4 linked regions of the Homo sapiens genome follow. The protein of the gene in region 1 interacts with the protein of each later gene in a pairwise test. Each region holds a gene or a part of one and is shown on either strand. Other genes may lie near its edges. The genes, in order: PPP1R16A, NUTF2, TPP2 and APBB2.

The links.
Region 2: the proteins of PPP1R16A (region 1) and NUTF2 interact in binary tests that used the Homo sapiens proteins (3 or more experiments, as listed by UniProt).
Region 3: the proteins of PPP1R16A (region 1) and TPP2 interact in binary tests that used the Homo sapiens proteins (3 or more experiments, as listed by UniProt).
Region 4: the proteins of PPP1R16A (region 1) and APBB2 interact in binary tests that used the Homo sapiens proteins (3 or more experiments, as listed by UniProt).

What each region holds. Positions count from the first base shown.
Region 1 is NC_000008.11:144,494,974-144,501,994, reverse strand, and holds part of PPP1R16A (protein phosphatase 1 regulatory subunit 16A), read right to left. Parts: exon of another isoform or gene 5,535-7,021; 5' UTR 4,801-5,534; coding exon 4,542-4,800; intron 4,019-4,541; exon of another isoform or gene 4,000-4,018; coding exon of another isoform or gene 3,778-3,999; exon of another isoform or gene 3,226-3,777; coding exon 3,155-3,225; exon of another isoform or gene 3,080-3,154; coding exon 2,934-3,079; exon of another isoform or gene 2,473-2,933; intron 1,900-2,472; coding exon 1,796-1,899; intron 1,729-1,795; coding exon 1,604-1,728; intron 1,509-1,603; coding exon 1,383-1,508; intron 1,310-1,382; coding exon 1,234-1,309; intron 1,154-1,233; coding exon 1,024-1,153; intron 867-1,023; coding exon 701-866; intron 476-700; coding exon 92-475; 3' UTR 1-91. UniProt on the Homo sapiens protein: Inhibits protein phosphatase 1 activity toward phosphorylase, myosin light chain and myosin substrates.
Region 2 is NC_000016.10:67,863,926-67,870,946, reverse strand, and holds part of NUTF2 (nuclear transport factor 2), read right to left. Parts: intron 5,846-7,021; 5' UTR 5,817-5,845; coding exon 5,718-5,816; intron 2,608-5,717; coding exon 2,536-2,607; intron 2,447-2,535; coding exon 2,348-2,446; intron 148-2,347; coding exon 34-147; 3' UTR 1-33. UniProt on the Homo sapiens protein: Mediates the import of GDP-bound RAN from the cytoplasm into the nucleus which is essential for the function of RAN in cargo receptor-mediated nucleocytoplasmic transport.
Region 3 is NC_000013.11:102,634,978-102,641,998, forward strand, and holds part of TPP2 (tripeptidyl-peptidase 2), read left to right. Parts: intron 1-609; coding exon 610-725; intron 726-1,246; coding exon 1,247-1,415; intron 1,416-2,104; coding exon 2,105-2,262; intron 2,263-3,261; coding exon 3,262-3,338; intron 3,339-5,292; coding exon 5,293-5,399; intron 5,400-7,021. UniProt on the Homo sapiens protein: Cytosolic tripeptidyl-peptidase that releases N-terminal tripeptides from polypeptides and is a component of the proteolytic cascade acting downstream of the 26S proteasome in the ubiquitin-proteasome pathway.
Region 4 is NC_000004.12:41,211,540-41,219,553, forward strand, and holds the start of APBB2 (amyloid beta precursor protein binding family B member 2), read right to left. Parts: upstream 3,004-8,014; 5' UTR 2,866-3,003; intron 1-2,865. UniProt on the Homo sapiens protein: Plays a role in the maintenance of lens transparency, and may also play a role in muscle cell strength. Involved in hippocampal neurite branching and neuromuscular junction formation, as a result plays a role in spatial memory functioning.

The sequences.
Region 1 (7,021 bases):
CGTGCTGCACCCGCAGCACCAGGGCACGCACCGTGGGGAGGCAGCCTTGGGCTGTGCCCGCGACAGGGCCCCTGCATGCTGAGCAACAGCCTCACATGAGCAGGCAGCACGGCCTCCTCTCCACGGGAGCCTCCACCGCCGGGGCTGTGAGCTTGAGCAGGGGTGGGTCCCCGCCTGCCCTGAAGCCACAGTCAGGCTGGGGGGTCACCGTGTCACCAGGCAGGCCAGGCTCAGCTGTCTCAGGGCTCTCGGGCCCCTCAGGTGGGGGTCGCTGCAGCTTGGCAGCAGCTCGCTGGCGCTTCAGGTCAGCCAGGGTGTGGTGGGCCTTGTCGTGGACCAGGGTGTGGGGGGTGGTGCTGTCCAGGGGGCTCAGCTGGTAGGAGACACTCCGGTCTAGTCGCTTGGAGTATAGATGCCGCACTGGGGAGCCCCCTACTCGGCCATTGTGCGGCCTGACCACTTCGGGGTTGTCCTCCTGCGGGCAGTGAAGGTCCCAGAGCCATCAGGAGGCTCCTCCCCCCTCCCTGGCCTTGGGTTCAGGCTGTATGGTCATGAAGGGACAGACAGGAGAGATGGGGCAAAAGCTGGCCCCTGCAGGGCACCATTCCTGACACAGGCAGGAGGGGGTCCAAGCGGAGAGAGAACCAGGGCAGAGCCAGGCCCACCCCTGCGCTGGGCGGAGCAGGGACGGGGCGCTCACCTCCGGGGGCGGCGGCCTGAGCTCTGCGCCTGTCTGGCGGTCATCGTTGTCCTCGGGCGGCTCCGGGCTGGTGGGCGGCGGCTGTTGCCACACGATGGCCTCCTGGGCGTGCTGCTTGCGGTACAGGTCGGTGCGCTGGGTTAGGCTCACCCGCCTCACCACCTTCCTGGGGAGGAGAGAGGAGAGGGAGTGAGGGGAAGGGGAGTGCCCGGAGGACCCCGCCCACCCCCTCGGACTCTGCCCCCAGTTCGGCTGGCACTCCGCCCGGGGCTGACGTCCGCGGGGCCAAGCCCGGGGCGGGGCCTGCTGGGGGCGGCGCTCACCCGCGGCTGCCGGCGCTGGAGGTGCGGCGGCGCAGCAAGGAGCGCTGGCGGCTCTGGGCGCGCAGGAGGGCGTCGTGCTTGTGCTTCAGCTCCAGCAGCTTGGCCCGCACCTCCTCGTCCCCGCACACATCTGAGAAGTGGGCGCAGGCGTCAGGGGCGCCCTCCCCGCCTGTCCTCTCCCCCAGGTGGAGGTGGGCCCCGCAAGCTCACCAAGGGGCGTCTCGTCCATCAGGGACTTTGCGTTCAGGTCGGCCCCGTGCGCCACGAGCAGCTCCACCAGGGGCACCTGTGGACGGCAGGCCGGAGCTGCAGACTGCTGCGCTGGAAGCCCCCTCCCACCTGCTCCCGCCCGCACTCACCTGGCCCCAGTAGGCCGCGGCGTGCAGCGGCTCCCAGCCGTCTTGGTCCTTAGCGCTCAGGCTGGCTCGGTGTTCCAGCAGCAGGGCAGCCGCCTCGCTGAACCCGTTGGCGGCTGCGACGTGCAGCTGCAGGCAAGCGCCCGGCCTGAATTCGGCCCCATCCCCCACCTCCAAGTAGCGAGGCCCCCAGCCCCGTGTGCCCCTCACCCCCCAGCCCTCACCAGCGTGGCCCCGTGGTCCAGGGGGGCATGGAGGTCTGCCCCGGCCTGCAGCCGGCTCCGGATGTCGTCCAGCATGCGCAGTTCTGGCACGGCCCGGGCGGCCTCGATGCTGTCCTGGGTGATGCCTGCGAGGCGGCAGGCTCAGAGGGAGCGCGACCGGCAGCCCTCCCACAGCCGCACCGCCGCACCTACCACGGTCGGCCATGGCAGTCTCCAGGCAGTCCAGCGTCTGCTCATCATCACACAGGTCATAGGGCATGTTCCCGTCGGTGTTGACCGCCAGGAGATTGGCGCCACTGCAGGGAAGACGGACGGGGTGCTGGGCACAAGGCCCTTCCCCGCTTGCCAGGCTCCTCACTTGGAGAAGTCCCCGCCAGGGCCCCTCAGCCCAGGGCTGCCCCTCAGGAGGCACCCTGTCCACCTGCTGCTGGGAGAGGCAGCCTTGGGGCCCATCGGCTGTCCTAGATCCTGTCATTAAGCCAGACAGGCCTCCTGCAGTCTCTATCCATCCAGGGATCCAGGTTCCTGGCACCTCCAGGGGCAGCGGTGCCCCCATAAACATGCATTGGATGGGCCTGCCTGCTGGGGAGCAGGGAGCACAGGGTGGCGGGGGTGCAGGACCAGGCAGCCACGCTGAGGGGCTGCTGAGCTGTGGGGAGCATGGCCCCAGGGAAGAAGGGCGGTGAAGGGGAGCCCAGAACACAGAAGGGGGTGTCTGTGTGCAGTGGAGGAGCAGGCCTACCTGTGGACACCCCACATCCCCGCCTGCCCCGCAGCGCCTGTGTGTGACGCGACCGCCATGCACACCCCACCCGGCCTCACAGGGGCACTCGAGAATGACCGCAGCCCTGACCTCTCTCCCACTACAGATGCCTGGAGCAAAGGGGAAGGGAGGAGGCTCATGGACCCTCCCTGCTCAGAGTTCCCCCCGCTCTACGTCCCTCTGTGTTAAAGGTAAAGGCCCTACCTGTGCTCAGGTACCCTCTCCTCCCAAGCCACCTGGCCTCCTCACTCTGCTTCCCTCCTTAGCAGTTCTGCCCTCCTCACTGACCAAGACATTTCTCTGTGCACACTCTGGGGGGGGGCCCGAGGCCTGCCCTCTCGGCAGGAGGACGAATGCTGGGGAGGCAGGGACCGCGCTGCCCTGGGCACATGCCCATTCCCCTGGAGCCCCAGGCCCTGCTCTCCATGCCAGGACACAGGCAGGGTCAGCAAAGGTGAAGGCGGGAACACAGGAGGCCGAGAGCCACAGATACTGCCCAAGAGGAGCCTCCTGAGCGGCCATCTGAGAGGAAGCCTCTCCCTGCCAAGGACGCCCAACAGGCCCTACCTGGCGATGAGCAGCTCCACCAGGTGCAGGTGGCCGCAGGTGGCCGCAGCATGCAGAGGCGTCCAGCACTCACTGTCACAGGCATTGATGTTGGCCCCAGCCTCCAGGAGCTGCTGCACCATCTCTCGGAAATCATCAATGCAGCACTGCAAACCGTGCCACGTGAGCGACCAGAGCACGGGGGCCAGCCCCCACCCTGCCCACACCCAGTGCAGGCTGACCTGGTGCAGGGCCGTCAGGCCGTCCTCGTTGGCCAAGTCAGGGCTGACCCCACTCCCAAGGAACTGGCGGACTGCAAAAAGGTGGCGAGGTGAGGACAGGGTCCTGCCCCTGGTCAGGTCCTGTCAACTGTGCTTCGGCCCAGGACCCAGGGAAGGACAAGGAAGACAGTGGTGCCGATGGCAGGAGGCACACCAGAGCCCAGGGGTGGGGGCAGAAGCACCAGGCATCTGTCTGGCCCAGGCCGGTCACACTCCCAGAAGCCCTCTGCCTCCACCCACCTGCAGGCCCTTCATGGTGGTGCTCCAGCCCTCCGACCCCCAGAACAGGCCGTGCTCCTGTGTGAGAGCAGCACTCCAACAATCCCACACCTCCCTCCAGCCCAGGAAGAGCTCCCTGCCTGGAGGCTACCACAGCTCCTTCGGCTCTTCCCTGACAACCTGCCAGCCCTGTGTTCATGAGCTCTCCTGGGTCCTCTGGGACCTGACCTGAGGCTCCCCACCACCAGAGCACATCCCTGCTCTCACTCCCCTCCCCATCAAAGATCCCAACTCGGGCCCAGCTCTCGCCCAGGTCACCAGGGTTCTCCCTGACGGTGCCTGGGGTGCAGCAGGAGGGCTCCCACCTTCCCACAGCTCCCTGTGGACCATGGCACCCTCCGCCTCTTCCCTCTGCCTCCAGGCCTCCCGGGAGGGCTCCTGTCCACATGGAAAGATGCAGGCCAGACACTGCCGGCTCCTCTTTACTCTCTGCTCCGGAGGGAGGCAGGAAGGAGTCTCAAGGGCCACCACAGTGCCTCTTCCCCCAAGACTCCAGAGCACCAGAAGTGGAACCCACACAGCTGGGGCTGCAAGCGTGGGGCACAGGTGAGGAGAAGAGAGTCACAAGCAGAGCCTAGGGCAGGCACTGAGAGGGGGCCACCTGCATAGCTCTGTGCCTGCCCAGGGCCTGGCTCTCTCACCCACAGAGGTGGCTGGTCCCACCCTATTTCACGGAGGTGGAGACCAGGGCTCTCCTGAGCAGCCTAACAAGAAGCAGCAATGACTACCGGCCACCCCTGCTCCCGTGGGGCCCCGCACTAGGTTTTTCTGCAGGCTCCTGGGGGTCCACTCATGGCCTCAGCTCACCTCACAGCAGGAGCCCTCTGCATGCAGCCCCCGCCTGAAGGACGGCTGTCCCGCACAGGCTCACCTCAGGGCTGCCCACTGCTTGGGGCTTGCCTGATGGGGGCACCCTGGGCCACCCAGCCTGAAGAGACCAGGCAAGATCTGGGGGCTGGAGCCCAGGAGCTGTGGACAGGCCCAGCCCCCAGCCTTGGCATGAGACGGCACCCAGGTAGCAGGGAGTGGGCCGTCTGCTGGGAGCTGCTCTGGGCTCAGCCACACTCACCTTCTTCCAGGTCATTTCGGGCAGCGGCCTCCAGAAGGACAACACTGGGAGGGAAGAGGACCTGCTTCAGGAGCCCTTGGCTGGCTGCCTCCTTCCGGGGACGCTCCCCAGGACCCTTCTTGCCCTGGGCCTCCTTCTCAGCCTGGGCCCACATCTTCACCTGCTGGGCGCGCCGCTTCTGGGCATGCTTCAGCCGCTCCTGTGTGCTCATCCTGCCCACCATGGGCATCTCTGCCAGCAGCTCCAGGTGCTCGGCCATGGCGGCGGCTGCTTGCCCACAGGGCTGCTCGGGGCACCAGAGTGGGGAGCTTGGGGGCCAGGCTGGGCCTGAGGGGTGGGGCAGCTAGCTGGACTGGCACCCTCGGGGGCATCCCCTTCCCAGAGCTTCGTGCCCTTGGCTGGGTCAGGAGGCCCCACACAATAACCAGGCCCAGGCAGCCCTGGGGGGCATGGGCCGGGGCAGGGAGGGCAGTGTGGGAGGGCACCCCAAACCTGCTCCCCAGGCCAGCCTCTAGCTGTCGACAAGCAGCGCCTCGCCTCCCTCTCGGGGTCAGGGTGCACAACCTATGGGAGGCAGCCCCGAGACCTGGCCGGCCTCAGTGCAGGGTCTGAAACTAATTACCCAGATAACAAGGTTCCAGCTTCCGGGCACCCTGCTGAGGGGGAAGGGAGGGCAGGGCCAACCAGCAGTGAGAGCCCCTGTGAGCCCCTGAGAGTCCTCTTTTCACCTTCTAGGCTCAGGAGCCTGGGTGGGGCCTGGGAGCAGCCATGACCCAGCCCCCAACCCCTCCCAGCTGTGTGCCGAGGTCAGTGCATCAGTACTAACGAGGAGGTGCAGCCGCTGAGGCTGGGGGAGGGCAGGTAGTCAGAGTCCTGGAGTCCTGGCCCCAGGGCCCAGGGGTGAGGCTCTCTAGGCAGCCAGGGCACCAAGGGCACAGGCGGGCCGGCCGCAGTGTCTTCAGGAGCACCTCCTCTTCCAGCAGCTGCTCACACCTGAGAAGTGGGGAACAAGGAAGCATATCAAGGCCGGCTTGAGGCAGGGTGGCCCGGGGGAGCCCCTGCCCTGGGCCTCAGGTGAGACCAGGCTTCCAGCTGTCTCAGGTCCTGCCCTGTGTGAGGCCCACCCTTTGTCCACAGAGAGCACTGCAGGTCAACAGTCCTGGGGGTACGGGGAGCTACTCTGCCCCCATTCTGCCCCAGGTTCAGAGAGGGGCGGGGGAAAGGCATGTCAGGCTCCTCCCACCCACCCTTTCCAGAAAGGGCCGCCCACCCCAGCGAGGCGTTCCCTGCTAGGCTGCTCCTCCAGGGCCAGGCGCTGCCCTAAGGCTGGGCAGGGTGAGGTCTCGTGGAACAGCCTTGAGGGCTTTGCAGGCTACTGCCTTCCAAGGGCAGGCCCCGCCTCCTGGGCCTCCACCTCTCCTGCCTTCCAAGGGTAGGCCCCGCCTCCTCCTGTCCTGACTGATACCCCAGCCTCTCACTGCCCAGTCTCTAGACCTCTTCCTTGATGGGCTCCCACAATGCCTCTGCCATCCTAGGCTGCAATAAAAGCCCCCACCTGGTGCCTGGCTTGAGGCCTATGGGGACAGACAGGCAGGCAGACAGCTTCGGCTGGGGCACAACCCTGCCTATGTACCTGCTATGGCCCTAGTCCTGCCCGACACACTAAGTGTGGTTGCTGGGCTGGCCACAGGCCTCACCTCAGAAGGCACTCTGTGCTTGGCCAGGCGCGGTGGCTCAGGCCTGTAATCCCAGCACTTTGGGAGGCCAAGGCGGGTGGATCACGAGGTCAGGAGATCGAGACCATCCTAGCTAACAGGGTGAAACCCCATCTCTGCTAAAAATACAAAAAAAATAGCTGGGCGTGGTGGCACGTGCCTGTAGTCCCAGCTACTCGGGAGGCTGAGGCAGGAGAATGGCGTGAACCAGGGAGGCAGAGCTTGCAATGAGCCAAGATCACGCCACTGCACTCCAGCCTGGGTGACAGAGCGAGACTCCGAGAAAGAAAGAAAGGAAGAAAGAAAAGAAAGAAGGCACTCCGTGCTCTGCAGAAGATGCCTGCCAGGAGTCCTATTCTCCACCCAGCCAGGCCTCATGGCCATCTACACACTGACCCAACTCTTCACTGCTGGACTTCTACCCAGGTGTTTCATAGAATGCCCCCTTCTTTCAGAAAGGGAACTGTCCTGGGCCAGGTCAAATTAAGCCAGTCAGGTCCTTCCTGCTCAGGGGCCCCCAATTTATCTGGGAGCCCCACTTTACAGGTTCAGCCTACTCTAGACATAGTCCCCCCCTGTAGGCCTAGCCTCAGAGGCTTCCTGAGGACACGGCCAATAAGGCCAGTGGCCCTGACCTGGCTTTCTGCCTGCCAAGTAAAGAGCTTTTCCAGGCAGTAACTCTCCCTCCGAGCAGCCTGCTCCTAAGCCTGGCCAGCTCTGTAGACCGCAGAGGCCAGGGCAAGCACACACTGGCCAGACACCCTG
Region 2 (7,021 bases), on another chromosome or scaffold:
AGGAAACAGCGTGAGTGCCTAGCTGAGAGGAGGTCAGCCAAAGTTGTGCAGGGCGAGCCTGAACATGTCATTGGTGCAAACCCAAGCATCGTTGATGTTCTTTAATAGGAACATCTGGTGGAACCCCATGATGGGGTCTTCATCCGCCTATGAGGAGAGAAAAGAGGATTCAGTAAGGGGATCAAGAAACAGGAAGGGAATTCAGTGGTAGGAGAAGAGGGCAAAAAAATGTTGACTTTAGGATCAGGCCCTACTGTCCTGAACTCAAATCCCAGTGTAGCCAAGGGGTACTTGTGAATGTGAATTGATGTAATGTATGAAACAATGCCCTGGGCACATGTAGGCCAACAATCAGCCACGCCTATGTGTGCTATGTGTGCTTAAACTGCACAATAATTCACCCTTAGCTACAGCAAAAGAGCAGAGGATGTACCTGCCTCCAAGCACATATCTCCAGACACAAGTGATCACAATTTTGAAACGAATCCCATAGTATTTACCAAGTAACTTATAGAGTATCAAAAAAACTGCAAACAATCTTGAAAACATAGGTTCACTATCCAATGATGTTTCCTGTCATGTAATAAACAGTATTTGAGATGAAAAAAAAGGGCAAGAAACCTGCAGCCAAACTGCAGAAAACTAGGATGAGACCTAGTTGAAATAGGAGCCTAGCTAACCAGCACTGTCTCTAACATCACCTGCTTTCTGGGAATTATCGTCATCAAGGAGGCAAATCAGTTGTTTGGGAGCTCCAAATTGGACAGAATCACCAGGAAGAACCTGAAGCCGGTGGGAAGCAGCAGTGTTTACTACCTTTGCCTGAGAAAGTGAACAATGAGCTCCCTACAGAGACCTCCTGAATTCTGTGCCTCTTCAGGCACAGGCACTGAGCAGGACATCCTGAACAGGCAGGAGAAACTGACAGGAAAGTCCAGGCCAGAAAGCAGGTGCCTCTGCGTCCACTGCAGAGGCCCACAGGACCACCTACACACCCACTCTGGACTCAGGAAGCCCTGTCCCGGCTAGCCTAGAGAAAGAGAGCATGTGACCATGTTATTGTAAGACACAAGCCCAGGCCGAGGGGCAGCCAATTTGTCCTGCTATTTTTGGGAAGAAGGGTGTTTTTGTAAACAGAATCTGGCTTTATTTATTTATTTAGAGACAGAGTTTCACTCTTGTTGCCCAGGCTAGAGTGCAATGGTGCAATCTCAGCTCACCGCAACCTCTGCCTCCCAGGTTCAAGCGATTCTCCTGCCGCAGCCTCCCGTGTAGATGGGATTACAGGCATGTGCCACCATGCCTGGCTAATTTTGTATTTTTAGTAGAGACAGGGTTTCTCCATGTTGGTCAGGCTGGTCTCAAACTCCTGACCTCAGGTAATCTGCCTGCCTCGGCCTCCCAAAGTGCTGGGATTACAGGCGTGAGCCACCGCGCCCAGCCCAGAATCTGACTTTAATATGCTGAAGCACAACAGGTCCTTGGAGAGTTCTTGGGGGGTCTGAGGGACCACAGGAAGTCTCTGAGAATAATAGGTCTTGAGAAGGAGGAAGGAAAATGCAAAGAGAAATAGGTGGCTCACGCCTATAATCCCAGCACTTTGGGAGGCCGAGGCAGGTGGATCACCTGAGGTCAGGAGTTCAAGACCAGCCTGGCCAACATAGTGAAACCCTGTCTCTACTAAAAATACAAAAAATTATCTGGGTGTGGTGGCGGGCAGCTGTAATCCCAGCTACTTGGGAAGCTGAGGCTGGAGAATTGCTTGAACTCGGAAGGCAGAAGTGTAGTGAGCTGAGATTGTGCCACTGCATTCCAGCCTAAGCAACAAGAGTGAGACTCCGTCTCAAAAAAAAAAAAAAAAAGAAATAGGAGTTCCAGGAATCTGCTTTGCTCAGCAGGCAAGGAGCCAGCAGCCAGCCTGAGGAGTGGTAGCAAGGGCTGCAGGAGTGGACTGCCTCTCCGCACCCAGCTAGCCTGTCCACCTTGACCTTAGGGCAGAGTGGGAGCCTAGTGGCTTGGCACCCCAGTCCCATCCTACTCCTATACTTCTCCCTTTTCCAGATAAAGGCTCTAGACCAGTGTCTGCCAATAGGACTTTCTACAGTCACAAAAATGTTCTATATGGCTAGTACAACCGAAGAAGTACATTTTATTTAATCTTAATTAATATAACTTAAAAATTGCCACCTACATGTGGCTAATGGCTAGCATACTGAACTACGCAGCTCTAGACAGTCACTTTGTCTGGGTGTCCCTAGATAAGCAGGTCACATCCACAGGGAAAGCAGGGGTACAAGACTCTCCTCTGCCTGCCCACCCCTCCCTACCACTGTGGCAGTACCATTACCTTAAGCTGGCCCACAACCATGCTGATGATGCAGCTATCTGGAGTGGGCTGATGGTCCTGCGCGGTGATGCTGTGCTGAATTTTCTGGAACGGAAGGCTCTACAAGAGAGAGAGTGGGAGGTGGGAGAACCAAGGCCAGAAGGGGTGGGAAAGGAGCCACCTGCACCCTGGCTTTCTTCCCTACTTACAGACAACTTCTCCACAATGGCAGCTTTCCCCTGGAACTGTTGTCCTTCCCACGTAAGGCATGACGCGTCAATCTGAAAAAGGCACAGGAAACCCCAGGGTTGGGGCCTCAGAGTACAAGTATCTCTAAGGCCCTGGAAAGACTCTGAAAAGGGCCTTGCTTGGAGAAGTGTGGCCACACTTCAGTTTCCCTGTCTAAAGAAGGAGACTGAGTATAGCCCCCAAACATTACACTATCAACATCTTCTACCCCATTGACCCTGGGCCCAGGCTTTGAAAGACTATTTAATAAAATATACTTCCCATTTGTATTTAAGAAGTCATATGGTCTCTGATATGCATAGGCCCAGGAGGGCTATATTGGCCTGAGCTCAGCCATCCTGCTGTGTGGTCAGTCAGTGTCAGTCCCAAAAGGTCATCAGAAATGTGGCCAGGCACGGTGGCTCACGCCTGTAATCCCAGAACTTTGGGAAGCCAAGGCGGGAAGATCACGAGGTCAGGACATCGAGACCAGCCTGACCAACATGGTGAAACCCCAACTCTACTAAAAATGCAAAAATTATCCAGGCATGGTGGCGCACGCCTGTAATCCCAGCTACTTAGGAGGCTGAGGCAGGAGAATTGCTTGAACCCAGGAGGCGGCGGTTTGTAGCGAGCCGAAATCGCACCACTGCACTCCAGCCTGGGTGACAGAGCAAGACTCCATCTCAAAAAAAAAGTCATCAGAAATAACTTGGAAAAATTCCACATTCATCACCCTCCAGGGCCGAGGCTAAGTTCCACTGTGGACTTTCTAGCTAGCCTTCTGGATACCCATGGGGTCAGGGAGAGATAGAGGCTGACAGGGCCTTCCAAGGCCTAGTCTGGGACCCTCCCTACCACCAAGAAGCAAAATCTCAAATGTAACCCACTTAGCTTAGTTCCACCTCAAATCTTCCCTTCCACAGCCTTCAAGGGCAGAACTCAAAAGGGCTTCTGCTGCTTACTAGCTGTGACATTAAGTAAGTTATTTCTCTGAGTCTTAGTTTCCTAACCTTCAAAGGGGTAATGTGCTGAGTATTATGAAATAATAAATATAAATTGTTCTTTTAGGACCTTGCTAACTCTCTTCTCTGGCTCAGGCCTGCTTTAAGAGATAATGAGGCCAGGTGCAGTGGCTCACACCTGTAATCCCAGCACTTTGGGAGGCCAAGGTGGGTAGATCACTTGAAGTCAGGTGTTCCAGACCAGCCTGGCCAACATGGTGAAACCCCGTCTCTCCTAAAAATACAAAAATTAGCTGGGCATGGTGGTGCGTGCCTGTAACCCCAGCTACTTGGGAGGCTGAGGCATGAGAATTGCTTGAACCTGGGAGGCAGAGGATGCAGTGAGCCAAAATCGCATGAATGCACTCCAGTCTAGGTGACAGAGTGAGACTCCATCTCAAAAAAAAAAAAAGGGAGAGTGATAATGAGGCACAAGTGCCAGGATCTCAGGTCAGATCACTTCAAGGTTTCAAAAACTCTATGCTGGGCATGGTAACTCACACCTGTAATCCCAGCACTTTGGGAAGCCAAGGCAGGCAGATCACCTGAGGTCAGGAGTTGGAGACTAGCCTAGCCAACATGGTGAAATGTCACCTCCACTAAAAATACAAAAATTAGGTGTAGCCGGGCGCGGTGGCTTATGCCTGTAATCCCAGCACTTTGGGAAGCTGAGGCAGGCAAATCACCTGAGGTCAGGAGTTCAAGAACAGCCTGGCCAACATGGTGAAATCCCATCTCTACTAAAAAATACAAAAATTAGCCGGGCATGGCAACACGTGCCTGTAGTCCCAGATACTTGGGAGGCTGAGATGGGAGAATAGCTTGAACCCAGGAGATGGACATTGCAGTGAGCCAAGATTGCACCACTGCACTCCAGCCTGGGCGACAGAGTGAGACTGCATCTCAAGAAAAAAAAAAAATTAGGCTTGGTGGTGCATGCCTGTAGCCTCAGCTACTCCTGAGGCTAGGCACAAGAATCGCTTGAACCCAGGAGGCAGAAGTTGCAGTGAGCTGAGATCACCCCACTGCACACCAGCTTTGTTGACAGAGTGAGACTCTGTCTCAAAAAAAAAAAAAAAAAACTCTACTATGATAATGACAATCAAATATCTGTGCTGGAATTGGTCTTCCACTAATAAAATTTCATTATTTTTTCCAAAATTTCTGAATGGACACTGACTTTCTGGAGACAGACACAGAAGACTGTGGAGAGTCAGCCCAATCAGGCTCTGAGACTGTGCCTGGATTACTCCTAACACCCCCATCCTGGGCTCACCTGCCTGATCAATCACATTTTTGTGACTGACTCTCAGGCAGAGTCAAGTACAATTAGTTCTTGGTGTATATGAACATCGTTAAAAGAGCAGCAAATGCCGGGCGCAGTGGCTCACGCCTGTAATCCCAGCACGTTGGAAGGCCAAGGTGGGAGGATCACGAGGTCAGGAGTTCGAGACCAGCCTGGCCAACATGGTGAAACCCCATCTCTACTAAAAATACAAAAAATTAACTGGCCATGGGGGCAGGCGCCTGTAATCCCAGCTACTCGGGAGGCTGAGGCAGGAGAATCACTTGAACCCAGGAGGCGGAGCTTGCAGTGAGCTGAGATCGAGCCATTGCACTCCAGCCTGGCGAAAGAGCAAGACTCCATCTCAAAAAAAAAAAAAAAAAAGAGCAGCCAGCAATGCCTGCATAGAAGGGTTTGTGAAATGACCTATCAGCCTCCCTGGGCTAACCTCATTTGTTTTCCATGAGCATTCAGGAGCCTTGGATCCAAAAGGAAGCTGGACCCCAGGCCTCCAAGAGAGCTCAGCTTTGCACTGAGGATGCTCATGGCTGCTGCCTCCAGAGGGCACCATGAGCCCTAACCTCTGCCTGTTGCTGCCCAATCCAAAACCATGTGCCATGACAAATGCTGGCCACATGGAATGGCAAGCCCAGAACAGCAGGATTCTCACTCTTGTGGAAGTTGACAAAAGGAAAAGTATAGACCAGGTAATTACTTGGGCCAAGCGTCAGACCCCTGTCCCGTGGACAAAAGTTCAGATACAGAGGTGTAGCCAGTCCAGATAGGGCTGCCAGAACTTGTGAACTGGACACACTGGCCCAACATCCAAATTGATCCCCTAGGGTCCATTCTGGCCCTAGAGCTGGAAACTTACGTAAATTGCGCCTAGTTGGGTTCTATCATTATCAAATAACTGGTAGTAATGTTGAATGAAGCTGGATCCAATCTGCTCCCAAATTGGCTTGTCTCCCATTCTGGAGCGTCACCCGGCCTCACGGAGACCTGCAAGACCAATGAGACCAGGAGGGAAGCATTGGTACCATGAGAGTAGGTGACCAGCCACTGACCCCCACCCCTCACTGGCCTTCCTGGAGTCCTTTGCTGAGATCTGTTCTCTCAGAGAACACGGACAGGCCCTGGGGAACTGGCAGGAGACCCCTCCCAAGCCAGACCAGTGCTAGGAGCCCAGAGGTAGATCAGACCCAGCCTCTCCTTTGAGTTCTTGGTTGATGAGACACATAGATGATAGGGTCGTGGAGCACACAGGAGGGGTGCTAAGGGTAGATCTACAACAAAGAAAGGTCAGAGCAGGCCCTTGAAAGCCCAGTAAGGGGAGGGGCCTTATGGGAGGAGTTAAGCACTCCTCCAGTATCTTTCCATGTAATCCTCTCAACAACCTGCAAGGACAGAGTTATTGCTATTCTTCCCACTTTACAGCCAAGAACAACTGATACCTGTGTGTGTGTACTATTTTGTACTACAGCCCTCAGGCCCCCAACACTGTCCCAGGGCTACGCTGACAGATGGAAGACCCAGTGAGGATGTGGGGAGATTCTCAAGGCCCCTCTTCTTTTTTTTTTTTTTTTTTTTTTTTGAGACAGAGTTTCACTCTTGTTGCCCAGGCTGGAGTGCAATGGCGTGATCTTGGCTCACTGCAACCTCCGCTCCCTGGGCTCAAGTGATTCTCTTGCCTCAGCCTCCAGAGTAGCTGGGATTACAGGCGCCTGCCAACACACCCAGCTAATTTGTATTTTTAGTAGAAATGGGATTTCACCATGTTGGCCAGGCTGGTCTCGAACTCCAGACTGCAAGTGATCCACCCGCCTTGGCCTCCCAAAGTTCTGGGGTTACAGGCGTGAGCCACTGTACCCAGCCAAGGGCCCTCCTCTGCCAAAAACAGCAAGTGATCCCTTAGTCTCATGGGGGCAGTTTACTTCCCCGAGGCCAGGTGATTACCTGACCTGGCCCTTTCTAGGATATTTCTTCATTGATGGGAGTGACTCCTACCCACTTCAGAGCTGGGGACATGAGTTCAAGGATCAGAGGGAAAGCTGAGGGTTGTGGGAAGAGGGGATGGAGGCTGTGAAGGGAAACGTGTCATCCCTTCATATCCCCTCATCCCAGCATTGCTTTTACCCTAAGGAGCTGTCTCTCTCGGGTCTCTGAGAGGAGGCCCCC
Region 3 (7,021 bases), on another chromosome or scaffold:
AATGTTTATGTGTTTAATGAGCTCTGGAGAGGACAAGAATGATACAGCACTCATCTTATGAATTGGTGGCCTCCATATTCTTCCCATAAAACAGTAATTCCCAACCTGGCTGTACCCTAGAATCATCTGAGAGTTGTTTAATAAATAACAATCTCTGGGACAGTCCTCAGAGATTCTGATTTAATTGGTCTGTCATGAGACCTCAGCATCTTTTTTGCTTGAGTTCCCCTGGGGTTTATAACATACAGTTGGGTTGAACACCACAGCCAACAGCCATCTTGTTTAACCCAGCAGTGTTTGAAAGAAAATGTCATTCACATGCTTTTAGATATCTGCTTTGTACGTTTATATTACGCCACAAAGCCCACACCAGTCTCTCTGCCCACCACATAATGAGAACACAGTGATTTTTGTGGAATGAAGCCTTCATGTAATGCAAGCAGTTTGAGTCAGACTGTTTAGTTCAGGTCTTCAAAAAAGATTTTAAAATGAGTGTTAGAACACAAGACATTAACACCAGAGGGTCTACAGGTGATCGATCATACTGGTGGGCGGCTAAGGTTTCAGATAGTGAGTGCTACACTACTTGTTTTTGTTTCTTAATTTTAGGTCTGAAAGCTAATAACATTGACTACACAGTTCATTCAGTCAGAAGAGCTCTAGAAAACACTGCAGTGAAGGCTGACAATATAGAAGTATTTGCTCAAGGACATGGTATTATTCAGGTATTGTTGCCTATATGAAAAATGGGTTGTAAAGCATCATTGAGATAATATCTTAGATATTATTGGGTAATATTTTGTTTTATAACAGTGATTCAGTATATCTGAATTATGGATTATATGGCCATAGAACTACAAGCAAAAAGGATACACAAACAAATTTTGTAGTTAAGACAAATCTGTTGCACTAAGATCAAGAAATGTAATAGATGGAGGCCATGTAGAGGTTAGAAATTCAAAGAAATCGAGGTCAAAAACTGGCCAATCATAACGGCATAGGGATTAGTTCCTAAATTTGGTCACTTGAGAATAACAGTGTGAATAGAGTGGAGTGGAAGATGTGACTGGTGTTGTTTCTAAAAATGTAGAATTGTCCTCTTAGTTGGGGTACTAGGTAGTTTTGAGAGGTGAATATAGACACTAACTTTTTGTTTTACAACTGAAATCAAATTGATTGGTAATTTGCAACAAAATATTTTTTGACCCAACCATTTATATCTTACCATGTATATTATTTTCACTAGGTTGATAAAGCCTATGACTACCTCGTTCAGAATACATCATTTGCTAATAAATTAGGTTTTACTGTTACTGTTGGAAATAACCGTGGCATCTACCTCCGAGATCCTGTTCAGGTGGCTGCACCTTCAGATCATGGCGTTGGCATTGAACCTGTATTTCCGGAGAACACAGGTCAGTAATAGGCTGGCAGTAAGCTGACGTATTCACATTTGCTGTTTGAATGAGTGGTATCATAATAAAGAATTGCTGTTTGGGCCAGTGTTGTGAAGAGAATACATGAATTGACAGTATGATTATTTTAAATCTTAGTCATAAGAGAAAATATTAGAGCAATTTGGGGTCCTTGTACAATGGCAATTTAGTTAGCATCTTAAACTACCAGGGAAAACAGTAGAATGAGCCTCAGTGACCCACAGCTTTATTAAATTGTGGATAATAAAATATCAAATTTCTTTTCCACTTTACCTACTTAGGTATAAGACAGAGCTTTCTGTTGAAGAATGAAAAGTAGAAGCAGTCTAGGAGAACTGCAGCTCGATTAGGTGTGAACAAAAATAATCATCGCTATTATCTGGCTGTCTTCATTTCAGTTGAATACTATGACCTGTGTGCAGTAATGAAAACATTCACTTAAACTCTTTATTTTAAGGTCATACCAGTGCTTGGTGAAAGTATAAATGAATCATGAGTAATCTAAATTGTAAGGAAGATTATTTGACTGTTTTATTTAAGCTGTGTTTTGGATGCATTTTACAGCCAACCAAACCAAGTCGCTAAATTTTTTTGGAAAGATGTAACATTTTTAAATGGAAAAAAGGAAAAAAATACTCATCTTTAATTTTTGGTCTTTTTCGTGCCAGAAAACTCTGAAAAAATATCCCTTCAGCTTCATTTAGCTCTGACTTCAAATTCATCTTGGGTTCAGTGTCCCAGCCATTTGGAACTCATGAATCAATGTAGACACATAAACATACGTGTGGATCCCAGGGGCTTAAGAGAAGGATTGCATTATACAGAGGTATTGATGTATCTTCATTTTTACTTTCTTCACTCTTTAAAATGTTTAAAAGGTTAAAAAAAAATCCAAAGTATATTTGCAATATATTGCTTTCTTGCTAAGAAATAACTAGACCTATCCATCTGCCAGGTTATTCAGTTCTTCTGGTGTGTCTATATTCATTTAAGCAGTGAGTTTCTAAAGAATCATATTTTGTCCTTGTATGAATAAGTAAAAGGAAAGAAGAGGTACAGCAGAACCTTTCAATTAGATCTCCCTCTAACTGGTGTTTTCTTTTGTCAGCTAAACAAAGCTGCAGTTGCTTGTTGTTGTTGTTGTTGTTGTTTTAAGAGACAGAGTCTTGCTCTGTTGCCCAGGCTGGAGTACAGTGGTGTGATCGTGGTTCGCTGCAGCCTTGAACTCTTGGGCTCAAGTGATATTCACACCTTAGCCTCCTGAGTAGCTAGGACTAGTGGCGTGCACCACCAAGCCTGGCTAAATTTTTTTATTTTTGTAGAGACAGGATCTCTCTATGTTGCCCAGTCTTGTCTTGAACTCTTGGCCTCAAGTGATCCTCCTGCCTTGGCCTCCCAGGGCTTTGGGATTACAGGTGTGAACCACCACACCCAGCCAGTTATACCTTTTAGTACTCAGATGAAGAAAGCATCTGTTAAACAAATAGTTGTAAACCAGGCATAGAATAGTATCACAACAGTATCTCCACATCTAAAGTTGTCTGTAGTACTAGTTTGAGCTAATTTTTCAGTTGGGAGTAATTAAAATGCACTTATTTTGTACCTGACGTCTCATTTTCCCATTTCAACTGGTCAAATGTTGCTATACATTTGTTTGGGCTGTTTGCTATTAATTATGTGACCTAGTGTCAGGAAATTGGTGTCAACCTCTGGTTAAGACCTTGATTAAAAGTAGATTGATTTATTCTGTCAGTAGTTTAGACCTTCCCCCGCTCTTTTAAACATTTGTTTATGGATATTGACACTTACCGATTCTTTTTTCAAGGTATGTGGCTATGATATAGCATCCCCTAACGCAGGTCCGCTCTTCAGAGTTCCGATCACTGCAGTTATAGCAGCAAAGTAAGTAACAGGTTACTCACAGCTTACTGGTACATCTAAGATTTTAATGACTATTCATGGAGTCTTGTGGACTTTTAATGATCACTAATACAGAACCAGGTAATGGGGATTTTGTCTTAGTTCTGCTCCCAGCTAGCATTTTTAGGTGTCATGTAGTCAGCCATACTGACTCTTGTGTGCTCTGAGAGTAACTGATGGCACCTGGCATCTGCCCTACCTCTGCATCAAAACTATTTCCACCACAGTCACTCTGAGCTCTGCATTGCCCAGTTCAGAGGATAACTCAGGCTTCGTCTGACCCGATCCCACTGTAGTATTTGACAATATTACTTCACTCCCCTCCATTCCTGCCCTTTTTGTCTCTGTCGTTTTTGGGATTTACTCTCTTCTCTTAATGCTTCCACTTTTCTAGTTATCTACTGTAGAAGCAGAAGTTAAGAAACTCTTAACTTCCCATCTTATTCCTCTGGAACCAAGGAAAAATCAGCAGATTATATTACTTCCTGCTTAAAGTATATCAGTGGCACCTCCAAAGGTCAAGTTCAAGCTCCTTAAAATAGCAAACAATGCTCCCTCACAATTATAGCCCTAGCCAGTGTTTCCTGTCATTCCGTACACCAAATTACACATTTTGGCCAACTCACTGATTTTGGCACTTGAGGATTCTCAGGATTTGTGCATGTGCACAGCTGATAACTTGGTTTCAATTTCCTGTCTCTTCAGTTAATGACCAGGTGCATTCCTGGTCATCCCTGGGTGAAGGGAGTCCCTTCTTTCTGCTTCGTGGCACATTTTACGTGCCCCTGGACAGACTTTAGCCAATATATTGTAATTTTTTATTTAACTTACACTCTTTCACTGTGAGCCCACCGAAGGCACAGAGACTACTGTTATACAGGATGTATAAAATAAATTATCTAGTGGATGAAGGTGAGATTGGGATTGTGAGAGTACTGGAAACCAAGTGGAAATTCTAAACTAACAGTTCTGTTACTCTGGTAAATATTAAGTATGCAATAGATCTCAGCCCATGAGAAACACAGGATGAAATTGAGGAGAATAAATTTAAAAAGTGGTATACATGTGGAAAAATTGTGCAACAGTTAAATTCTCAGCCGTATATTCCCTCGAAGTCCAGTAGTAATTTAGACCAGGTAATGTGTAAGACCTTCAGGAGTCAGCTGCCACGCCATCTCCTTCAGGAAGCTTCCCAGGCTCCGTAACTCTTCTTGTCTATCTGGAGCATCTTATGTTAAATGTCTCTGATGATGATTCTCTCCATGCTAGATTGTCTAGGTTAAAGAATCATATTTTCTTCTTTGTTACGTTTCTAGCTCCTAATAACAGGGCCTCATGTAGTAGGCACTCATTTAACCGTTTGTCCTACTGACAAGAATTTGTCTCTAGCATAAAATTTGTTTCCGTGGTGGGTAGTTATGCATTTGAACTTTATTTCATTGATTTCTTACAAAAGTGCTTTGAAAGTAGTTTGCCTTTCTTTACTGTTTTACATCATGGGAGTGTTTTGAAGCTACAGGAGGAGCTTAATTTAACACAAGTCTCATAGCTATAATACCAGTGACATAAAACTTTATCATTGATTTTAATATCTAGGACTCACTGTAGTTTGGAATCTGGTAATTGGAAAATTCTGTGAATGTTGTAGAATGCCTTTAACAAAAAAGAGAATGCTTTTTTAATAGTGTGTGTGAATGTATCTTACAAATCATAAAATAGGCAAAAAGTAGAATCATCTATACTCTGCTATTCAGAGGTTATCTCTGCTAACCTACTGCAAAAATTGAACAATATCGTACCTACTGTTTTGTAACCAGCTTCTAAGTCCCTGTGTTTATTTCCAATGAATTGTTATTTTGCGTTTATCCAATGAAATCTAGAGTATCTGTGGTCTTATAATAAATATATACATTTAATTACTTTTATTAATTTTCAGAGTAAATGAATCATCACATTATGATCTAGCCTTTACAGATGTACACTTTAAACCTGGTCAAATTCGAAGGCATTTTATTGAGGTTCCTGAGGGTGCAACATGGGCTGGTAGGTAAAATTAAAATCTGTGTGACCGCTTATCTCTGTTTACGTTCTAATGACTATAGCTGTATGAGGTTCGTTTATCTGTAGCATGTATTTCCCTGGTACTAATATATGTATTTGGGTACCTTAGACTTTCTGTAAAGTTCAAAACGTTTTTAAGATCTAGTACAATTTTGCATTGGCCCATACAGGAAATTAAGCCATCTTAAGATGTTTTTAATATTTAAGGTTTGAGCTTAGTTTAGAATAATGCCTTACCTGGTAATAATTTTTTTTTTTTTTTTTTTTTTTTTTTTGAGACAGAGTCTCACTCTGTCGCCAGGCTGGAGTGCAGTGGCATGATCTCGGCTCACTGCAACCTCCACCTCCCCAGTTCAAACGATTCTCCTTCCTCAGCCTCCCGAGTAGCTTGGACTAGCAGGCGTGTGCTACCACGCCAGGCTATTTTTTGTATTTTTAGTAGACACGAGGTTTCACCATGTTGGCTAGGATGGTCTCGATCTCTTGACCTCGTGATACACTCGCCTCGTCCTCCCAAAGTGCTGGGATTACAGGCATGAGCAACTGTGCCCGGCCTAATTTTTAAAATACTACAAATCAGTTTAAACAATGCAGCTGTTGCTTAAACCTCAAACTGTTAAACTCTCAGAATTTTAGAAATAGAGCTTTAATCTTTGAAGCTCTGTTTATAGAAGATTTTCACTTCAGTGTCTCTGAAATTTTGAGAGTAAATGATTGCCTAACACAAAGCTCTTGAATTAACATGTTATAGTCCTGTGAGAGTGCTCATGTCATTCTTTTTTACAAGAGCTGTGGGTGTACCATATTTTCCTTCACAAGTTGTGTGTCCTAAATTTACAATTTAGCAGTCAGTATAGAAGGGTATGTCAGTTGTCAGAGCTCACTCCCATTGATAGAAGGAAGCAAATACGGGCAGTCAAGAAAGTGTCACCCAATTTAAATTAGTAGCCAGCATTGTTGATACTTCTTGGATTTGGCCCCTCTGCTAAGCACTTTACAGAGATTATCTTGTCTAGTCCCGTCAGAACCCTATAAGGTAGATAGGTGTCATTAGTAAAAATGGCTTGTATTTTACTTAGGAGTGTGTTTTTTGTACTTGTATGAAAGTACAGATATATTTACATCTGAGACTTTATTGAAAATGAAATATTGAAATCACACATGTATGACTTGGTTTGGGAATAACTGGTTGTATTTGGTTCCCCATACCATTTTCTGGTCATCTATCTGTATGCTGTCCATCTGTTTGTCACCTGGTATCACAGGAAATACCAGACTTTTCTTGTTTTTTGTAATTAGGTAAAGGCAAAATAATAGCAAAAGCTGAGAGCTAAAGCAGTGAATTGAACAGCACCCAATATAGCCTGTTAATTTGCACACTGGTTTATAATGGAGCTATTGCAGCAGTGAGAGGCTTCTGAGGATAATCGGGTTGTACTACACTCATTCATTAAGCATATTTTTCTGTACCATCTGTGCCAGGCCCTTTTCAGTGGGCTAAGGTGGTGAGCTACTTAGACAAGGACCCTGCTTCCAGAGGCCTTGAGAGCATCTAGTCCAAGATATTGCAGTTAAGAGAACTGGATTAGAGGGAGGCAGCACAG
Region 4 (8,014 bases), on another chromosome or scaffold:
TGGCGCGATCTTGGCTCACTGTAACCTCCACCTCCCAGGTTCAAGTGATTCTCCTGCCTCAGCTTTCCCAGTAGCTGGGATTACAGGCGGGAGCCACCACACCCGGCTAATTTTTGTATTTTTTTAGAGACGGGGGTTTTACCTCTTGGCCAGGCTGGTCTCAAACTCCTGACCTCAAGTGATCTGCCCGCCTCAGCTTCCCAAAGTGCTGTGATTATAGGTGTTAGCCACCGTACCCGGCCAGGTATTGTCTATTTTTAAAATGAAATTGAAAAAGGTACAGAGACACGACATACCATTTTTCTTATTTTTTCCTTCAACTTTTAAGTTCCAGGTACGTGTGCAGGATGTGCAGATTTGTTACACAGGTAAACATGTGCTATGGTGGTTTGATGCACAGATCAACCCATCACCTAGGTATTAAGCCCAGTATCTATTAGCTATTCTTCCTGATGCTCTCCCTTCCATTTTTCTTAAAAGATAAATTTAGATATCCAGTACTCAGGATAGTCCACACACATCATTATTCTAATATTATGACAAGGCTTTCAGTATTCATTCCTGTGGTAACAGAAAAATAAAAGAATTCAATGTTCATATGCTGTTTTTCTGGTGGCAGGAAAAGAAAACAGTCATCAAAAGGTTGAAACATGACAAAAAGTACCAGTTTAAAAATATTTTATGTTTGTACATGTGGATTCTTACAATATATGCAATAGTTTTTTCCCAAGTAATTTTGGAGTCAGTATTCACATTACTCCAGCTAAGTGTAAACACCAGTATTTTGCACTTTAGCTCATCAAGCTTTCTTTTTTTCAGAAACAGGATCTCACTCTGTTGCCCAGGCTGGAGTGCAGTGGCGTGATCATAGCTCACTACAGCCTCAAACTCCTAGGCTCAAGCAATCCTCCCACCTCACCATCCAGCTTTTCAATTACCACTTTATAAAAATTTCAGAAAGCCAGTTCACATTGGCTCCTTGAAGGTGAATTTATTCAGTTAAAAGTATCCATTAGAAGAGGGAATAAAAGCATAGGACCTAAAAACCTTCTGTGGAAAGGATCTCAACTTTAGAGTCGTCTCTCAAAGGCTCTCAGCAAATATCTAGAGACGTGGTTACATCCAGTTTACGAAGACTGTCGGTGACTTCGGGGTCATACAGTACATGGACAACGAAAGAACAGCAATTGAAATCTTGTACTTGTACCCCACCACCTTCCGCCCTATGATCAACCCACTGTACTCTACTGCCACCTGTGTTCTCTCGGCATTTCCCCAGCCTGGAGGTTTCCCCATTCTCGCCACAAATACCATCCTTCACGAACGATGCCATTTCTAGGATGTTGCAAGTTATGATAAACAACTGTTGAACAAATATTGCTTACAAGCTACAAGTTGAAAACGAGAAGGTTGCTACCTAAGTTCATGAAGAAATCCCCTTTCAAGGATTCCATCTGTTCCTAAAAGGCCAGCCACACAAATTCTAATACTCTGCATTATTATGGCCATTTGGGGACAAGATTTTAAATCTGAAACCATGACAAGAAAAAAAAAAAAAGCAAGATTTAAGAGAGTAAACTCCAGAAACAACAGATCAAACTGCCATTGTGTTTGTTTTTTTTAAATCAGTGAAATATTAAAACAAATGATAAACCCATGCCAACCTCACAAAGTTTCCTCATTCCTTGGAATTCAAACACCACCGATGGCATCATTTTATGATAATCCTTTGGGTATTTCACGTAAGTAATTAGACACAATGTAAAGCCAGTGACTGAGGGACTTAAACAAACTGTCCCCTCCGAGAGCCCAGTTGGAGCTTCCGACACTGACCTTATTCTCCTCTCAATTTTAACCCTCCTCAACCACTCAATCCATCCAAAAACGTCTGTGACAGTCGTGGCTCTAAAACCGCGCAGAACTTGACTACAGAACGGTCGGTGACAACTCCACATATGATTTATCCAAATTAATTTATTTTTTTGAATTCTAGTCCCATGCTCCCTCGGCTGTTTGCCCCGAACCCGTAGTCTACACCACTTCACCGACGTGAAGACCACCTTTCATTGTTTCTATGGGTCTCAGCATCCTTCCCTCCGTCCAGCTCTGTTCTCGCCGCACAAATGTCATTTCTAGCGTACCACCCTCCATTCCGCCCGGTGGGCAGCGCAGGGGCTTTCGGGTCCCAGTGGCCAGTTTCCTGGAGTCGGTCCCCTATGCACAGCCATTTTCTAGTTAAACGCTCTCTCTGCCACCGAGGGGGAAAAGGAACTTTTCCCCCCTTTCATGTCTCATGGGCTGGCCTCTGAACCCCTCGTGGAGAAGCCAACCCCGGCTCCAACTCCCCGGCAGGAGCGCGCTGCCGCCCAGGAGAGACAGCCGAGCGGCACAGCGGAGGCCGGTGCCAGGACAAGGGGGTGTGCGCTCTTCCCGCAGGCGCCCACCCTCACTTTTCCCCTCTGCAGTCCCCACCCGGGCGCACCGCCTCCAACCCGGTCTCCCCCGCCCCAGGCCCTGCCAAGCCGGGGCTGCTGAGGGAAAGAGGGCGCCGGGAAGCGGGAGGGATGGAAGTCAAGGAGAGTGAGCCCGCAGTCGCCGTGCCACTGGCCCTGCGGCGCGGGCGCAGGGCGCACGGGACTCCGCAGCAGGCGCCCCGCTGCAGATGCCGCGGCAGCTGCTGCAGGTGTGGCTGCGGCTGAGCGGGCAGCAGTGGCCGCGGAGCCCCGGGGCCGGGAGCAGAGGAGAAGCCGCCGGGGGAACCCGCAGCCGCTCGCCGCACGCTGCTGCCGCTACCCGGGTGTTTCCCCAGCACTCTCGTGCTGCCCCGGAATCCGGGGCAAAGGCAAGGAAGAAAGCTGGGCTCACCAGTGGTGCGCGCGGCGCTCGCCTCGGCTCCGGCGCCCAGCGGCTCTGCTCCAGTCTCGCCCTTCCCGGAGCGCCCAGATCAGATGCGGTTACAGCGCACTAGCTTCCTACTTGAGACCAGAACGGGCTCCGGCAACTGAGCATGCTCAGTGCCGTTCCGCGAGTCCCGCGCAGGGAGCGGCGCTGACGAGATTCCACTTCTCCAGGCTTTGGCAGCGGCTGCGCGAGGGAAGGCTGGAGGGACCCGGCGGGGAGGGGGCCGAATGGGAGAAAGGCGGGGCCGGGGGGTGGGGGCCGGGCAGAAGGAGGCGGGCCGCGCTCCCAGGGCGACCCCTGCAGGTGGAGGCGGCAGGGCCTGCGGGAGGCACCCTCCCCAATCGCCTGGGAACACGCAGGGAGGCAATGGGTCCCCCAGTAAGACCCAAAGGCAGGACGTGCAGTGCAGCCCGGGTATCCCCTCCGTGTGGCTGGTGTCTGTCTGCACCAAAAGGCAGTTGGGTTACCTTAGCCCTGGCTTTTCTCCCACACGCCAGCATTCCCTTGCAATAGGAAAATGTCCCCACAGGAGAGCTGCCCACACCCACCCAGGCTAACTGCAAGTTGTAGGCGACACCTTCTCCTTCCTTCTACCTCCTATCCCCACCCCCAGGCATATGCCGCACACACACTCTTCTTTGATCCGGAAATCACAAGATAATATCAGGGGAGAGATACAACTGCCGGAGAGGAAAAGGAGGTTTTCCTTTCCATTGCCAATAATATTATCTATAACTCTAATTGTAAGCGTGCAAACAAAGCCCTGATAAGAGTCGAGTCTCAGTAAACGGTAAACCGTGCTCTGCCCCAGACGCTGTGAATGACATCCCCAAAGTATCCTTAGGATTGCTCTTCACCAGGGCAGCGGTTGTCAAACTGGAGCCTGGATCAGAATCGCCTGGAGGGTTTGCTGAAGTACAAATCCCTGAGTCCCAATCTGTGTCTCTGAATGGGTAGATATGTGGTGGGGCCCAAGCATCTGTATATCTAACAAGTTCCCATGGGATGCTGATGCTGCTGGTGTGAGGACTATACACTTTAGAGAACCCTACCCATACACACACACACACACAGTCCTACCAAGGATCTCGAATTAAAAACTCACGTGATTCTTCCTATGAGGACTCTATGCAGTGGGGTGGGCATTACTTTATTCTTTCCTACATGAGTTTATTAAGGATCCACGAGGTCTTGTACTAGGCCTGAGGATAGTGGTGAATTTAAAAGCCCAGGCCCCTGCTTTCATGGAATTTATAGTCCGGCCGGGTGACAGACACCTATCAAATAATCACTCAAAACGGTTATTTCAAACAGGTAGAGTGCTGGGAGGGAAATGCACAAGGTGCGAATAGAGTGTATAGAGGGACCCTCATGCAGACTCAGTGAGGTTGTTACGAAGGGATGGGAGGGGGGCTGCCTTGTGGAAGGTGGTTTCTGACTTTTGCACTCCAATAACCTCTCCAATTAACAATTATCTCCCTCAGACCGAGCTGGAGGCCAGCAATCATGTCCCTCCTTCCTACAACATAAAAACAATACTGTCACAGAGAAATCCCTATAAATTCATGAAAAGTGTTTACTCTTGGGACTGAGTCTCTGCACCCCAAGATCCACCTAACACGTCCGTGGACCAAGGACAGTCGAGGGCCACAGTAGACCTCTTGGGGAAAATACAGGCTCTCTGAACTGGAGAGCCTGTGGTTCTTAGTCTGTGATCTTCAAGGCCAAAGAGGCAAGGAAACCAGCCCAAGACCACCATTCCCGTCAGGAGCGGAGATCGACCAGCCTCCAACCTTGCAGACGGGTCCTCTTTCCAAGGCACTCTATTCCCGGACCTCACAGCTCCCCTCAGATCCCCGGAACCCGGCCTGGCCACCCCGCTCTCTCTCGGGGGTCCGGGGTAGGTGAGCGGAGCCTGCCCCTCCCAGGTCGGTCTCTTCCCGACGGAGAGGAAAACCCGCGGTGGAGTCCGCGGCGGCGGGGGGGGGGGGGGGGGGGGGGGCGGGGCGGCGCGCGCAGGCGCAGAGGCCGCCAGGTTGGGCCGAGGAGGCGCCCTGCTCCACACCTGATGCAATCAGCCTTCCGGAAACGGGTCCCGCTGCCGCGCTCACCCAGGAAACACTTCCGCGCCCTCCTCTGGCCGCTGAGCTCCCGGGGACGGGTTCCCAAACTCCCCCGGCCCGACTTCGCCACGGGCGGTGTTCTGCGCCCCGTCGGGGATACGCCGGAGAAGTCGGGAAGTCACTGCCTGGGCACACAAAATCCCTGAAATGCCCTGACAGTGACGTCGAAACGGCCACCAAGCGTTGCGCAGCTGCAGGAGGAAATTCCCTTAATTATGAATTTACAGAGGGGACTGATCGGGGCCGGAGGGAAGGCTTTGACCCTTCCCTTGCTTCCTTCCTTCGTCCGCCTCCCAACACATTGTCTCTCTCACTGAAAGGAACGTTTAACAGCAGTTTTAAGGCAGTATGGAGAGGAATCTCCATGCCCTCTGTCTTGCTAAATATGTAACAGCACTTTAGCTTTGCTACATAAAGCTTTCCCACCGCGCGCTCATTTTATAAATACGTAATTGGTTTCTGCATACCTCATCATTTCAGTTTACAAAGAAAATCATTTCTCGTTTCACCACTTCATGCAATTTTTATATCTATTGTGAGTGGGTTTTTTTCTTCATGCTGACTCACCCATTAATTGTTTTCCAAGGAAATGAAATATCCAAGAATATTCCAAGAGCATGTTTTTTAAAGCATGGAAGTAAACGCTGTGAACAGTAGATAAAACTGACCTCTCTTAAGTCCCTTAAGGCCAAAGGTCCTCCTAGGGAGTTGGGGGAAGGAGGCAGATCCAAGGAATTTTATTTGGAAGGATACCTCAAGACCATTCTAGAATCAAATCAAGATCAACTCTTAGACTTTACAGATGACATTTACCTCTCTGTGGCCCAGAGAAATAAATGACTTCTTTATTTAGACAAACCAAAGGCAGAACTGGCACTTGAAGCCAGATTTCTCAAAATTCCAATCTAATGGGGAAAAAAAAATGTTTTTTGCACAAACACCGTAGGGAGTGCAATACTATATTACAATGCAGTTTTACAATCCAAAGATTACAAAATACAAAATAGGTGACAACAAAAGGGATCCTATTACTTGTTCCTGTGACGTCATTAGTCTTTAAATAGTCCATGATCAACAAATATCCAGCCACTTCTAAGTGGCATTGAATAGCCAGAGTCTAGGAATTAAATATTTCAATTAAACAGGTATGAGTCAGGTGCAGTGGCCCAAGCCTGTAGTACCAGCTACTGGGGAGGCTGAGGCAAGAGGGTACATGAGGCTGGACGTTCAAAGTTGCAGTAGGATCTTGCCTGTGAATAGCCACTGCACTCCAGCCTGAGCCACACAGCAAGACCTCATCTCAAAACAAAACAAAAAAAACAGTATAACTACAAAACATCAAGAAATCTTCTGTGCCAACATTAAGAACTTCTAGTATTATTATTTGATTGTGTGGTATATGTGCAACGGTTTGAGCTTAAACCAAGGGAATTTTAATGATCACAACAAAATATCACGGTCATGATTTTCTTCTGTAATGATTTTAAATACTTTAACAATTTAGTAATCAAAGTGAAATAAAAAACAACTCAAAACTCATGCCTGCAATAAGATAAAATCTAATTCTTCAAAACTCTGTCTACCTTCTTATCTTGAGGAATGAATTTCTTTTTGGAATGTTCTGACAGAGATCTGGAGGAACACCTTCTATTGAAGCAAAAATAGAGTTGAGTAAATGTCAAAATGCAGAGGTACAAAATACACACTGTCACACGGTACTAGTTTTAGAATAGCTAACTCTTACTGACTATTTAGCATGTGCCAGATACTGGCTAAGCATTTTCCATAGGTTATTTAACTCAATCCTCACAACTACCCTATAAATGAAGCACTATTATTATCCCTATTTTATGGATAGGGAAAGTGAGGCTTGCAAATGTGAAGCAGCTAACTCAAGGCACAAAATATTCATTGGCAGAACTGGGATTTGAACCCAGGCAGTTTTCCTGGAGCTTGAGCTCTTAAATAATACTATGTATGGAAAAATGTAAATACAGAGAAAATGACTATAATGATTCTCAGATAAGAAAGGAGAGGGAGTATTGTACTTACTCTCCTAAAGATAAAACATAGTAAAATAAGTTTGTAGTCCACACTAGGAAAAAACCTTTTGCTAGCTAATAAATTATGGTCCCCAAATATAGGACCAATATTACCCAGAGGTATGAGGCAGATGATCAAATATCGAGTGATTTTTCAGGGGTACCAGCAAGGCCTCTTCTCTGATGAACCCTCTACGCCTGACTGGTTTCTCTAGTCCTAAACCATCCAATATGGCAGTCACTAGCCACATATGCTTATTTAATCTGAAATCACTTAAAATCAGTTAGAATTAACTCTTCGGTTCCTCTTTCATACTAGCCACATTTCAAGTGCTCAGTAGCATATGGCCTAATGACTACTGTATTGGATAATGTAAGTAAAAAGCATTTGCATCACTGCAAAAAATTGTATTCAACAGTGCTGCTCTGGGCCTTAATGTCATTAGGGCAATCCTTTAATCTCTCTTCATACTGCACTATTCCTGGGAGGACCATGTTTCCATGGTCTACCTTCCCATTGAGCTTCAGTCCTATTTTTCCAAACTAAAATTATTATTAGAGTGTAGAAAGGTACAAAGAGGTACAAAGCATAAAGTCCCCTACTATCATGGAAAGAATAGGGGCACTGGAGTAAGACCTTATTTCACATTCCAGCTCTTAGTAGTTGTGTGACCTTGGGCAAGCTACTTTACCTCACTGAATCTCACTTTTCTTATCTGCAAAATGGGCATGTTAATTTTTTCATTATAGGTTTATTTAAGATTAAATAACATATGTAAAGCTTCTGGTAGGCCTCACATAGGATGATTTCCTTCCTTCCACTCCTATTTCAGTTAATGACATTCCCCAATTACTCAGGTTTCTAAACTAGAAATCTCAGTCATCTTCAATTCTTCCTTCCTCCTCAACCACCCGCATTAAATTAATCACCAAGCCCTTTTGCTCCCA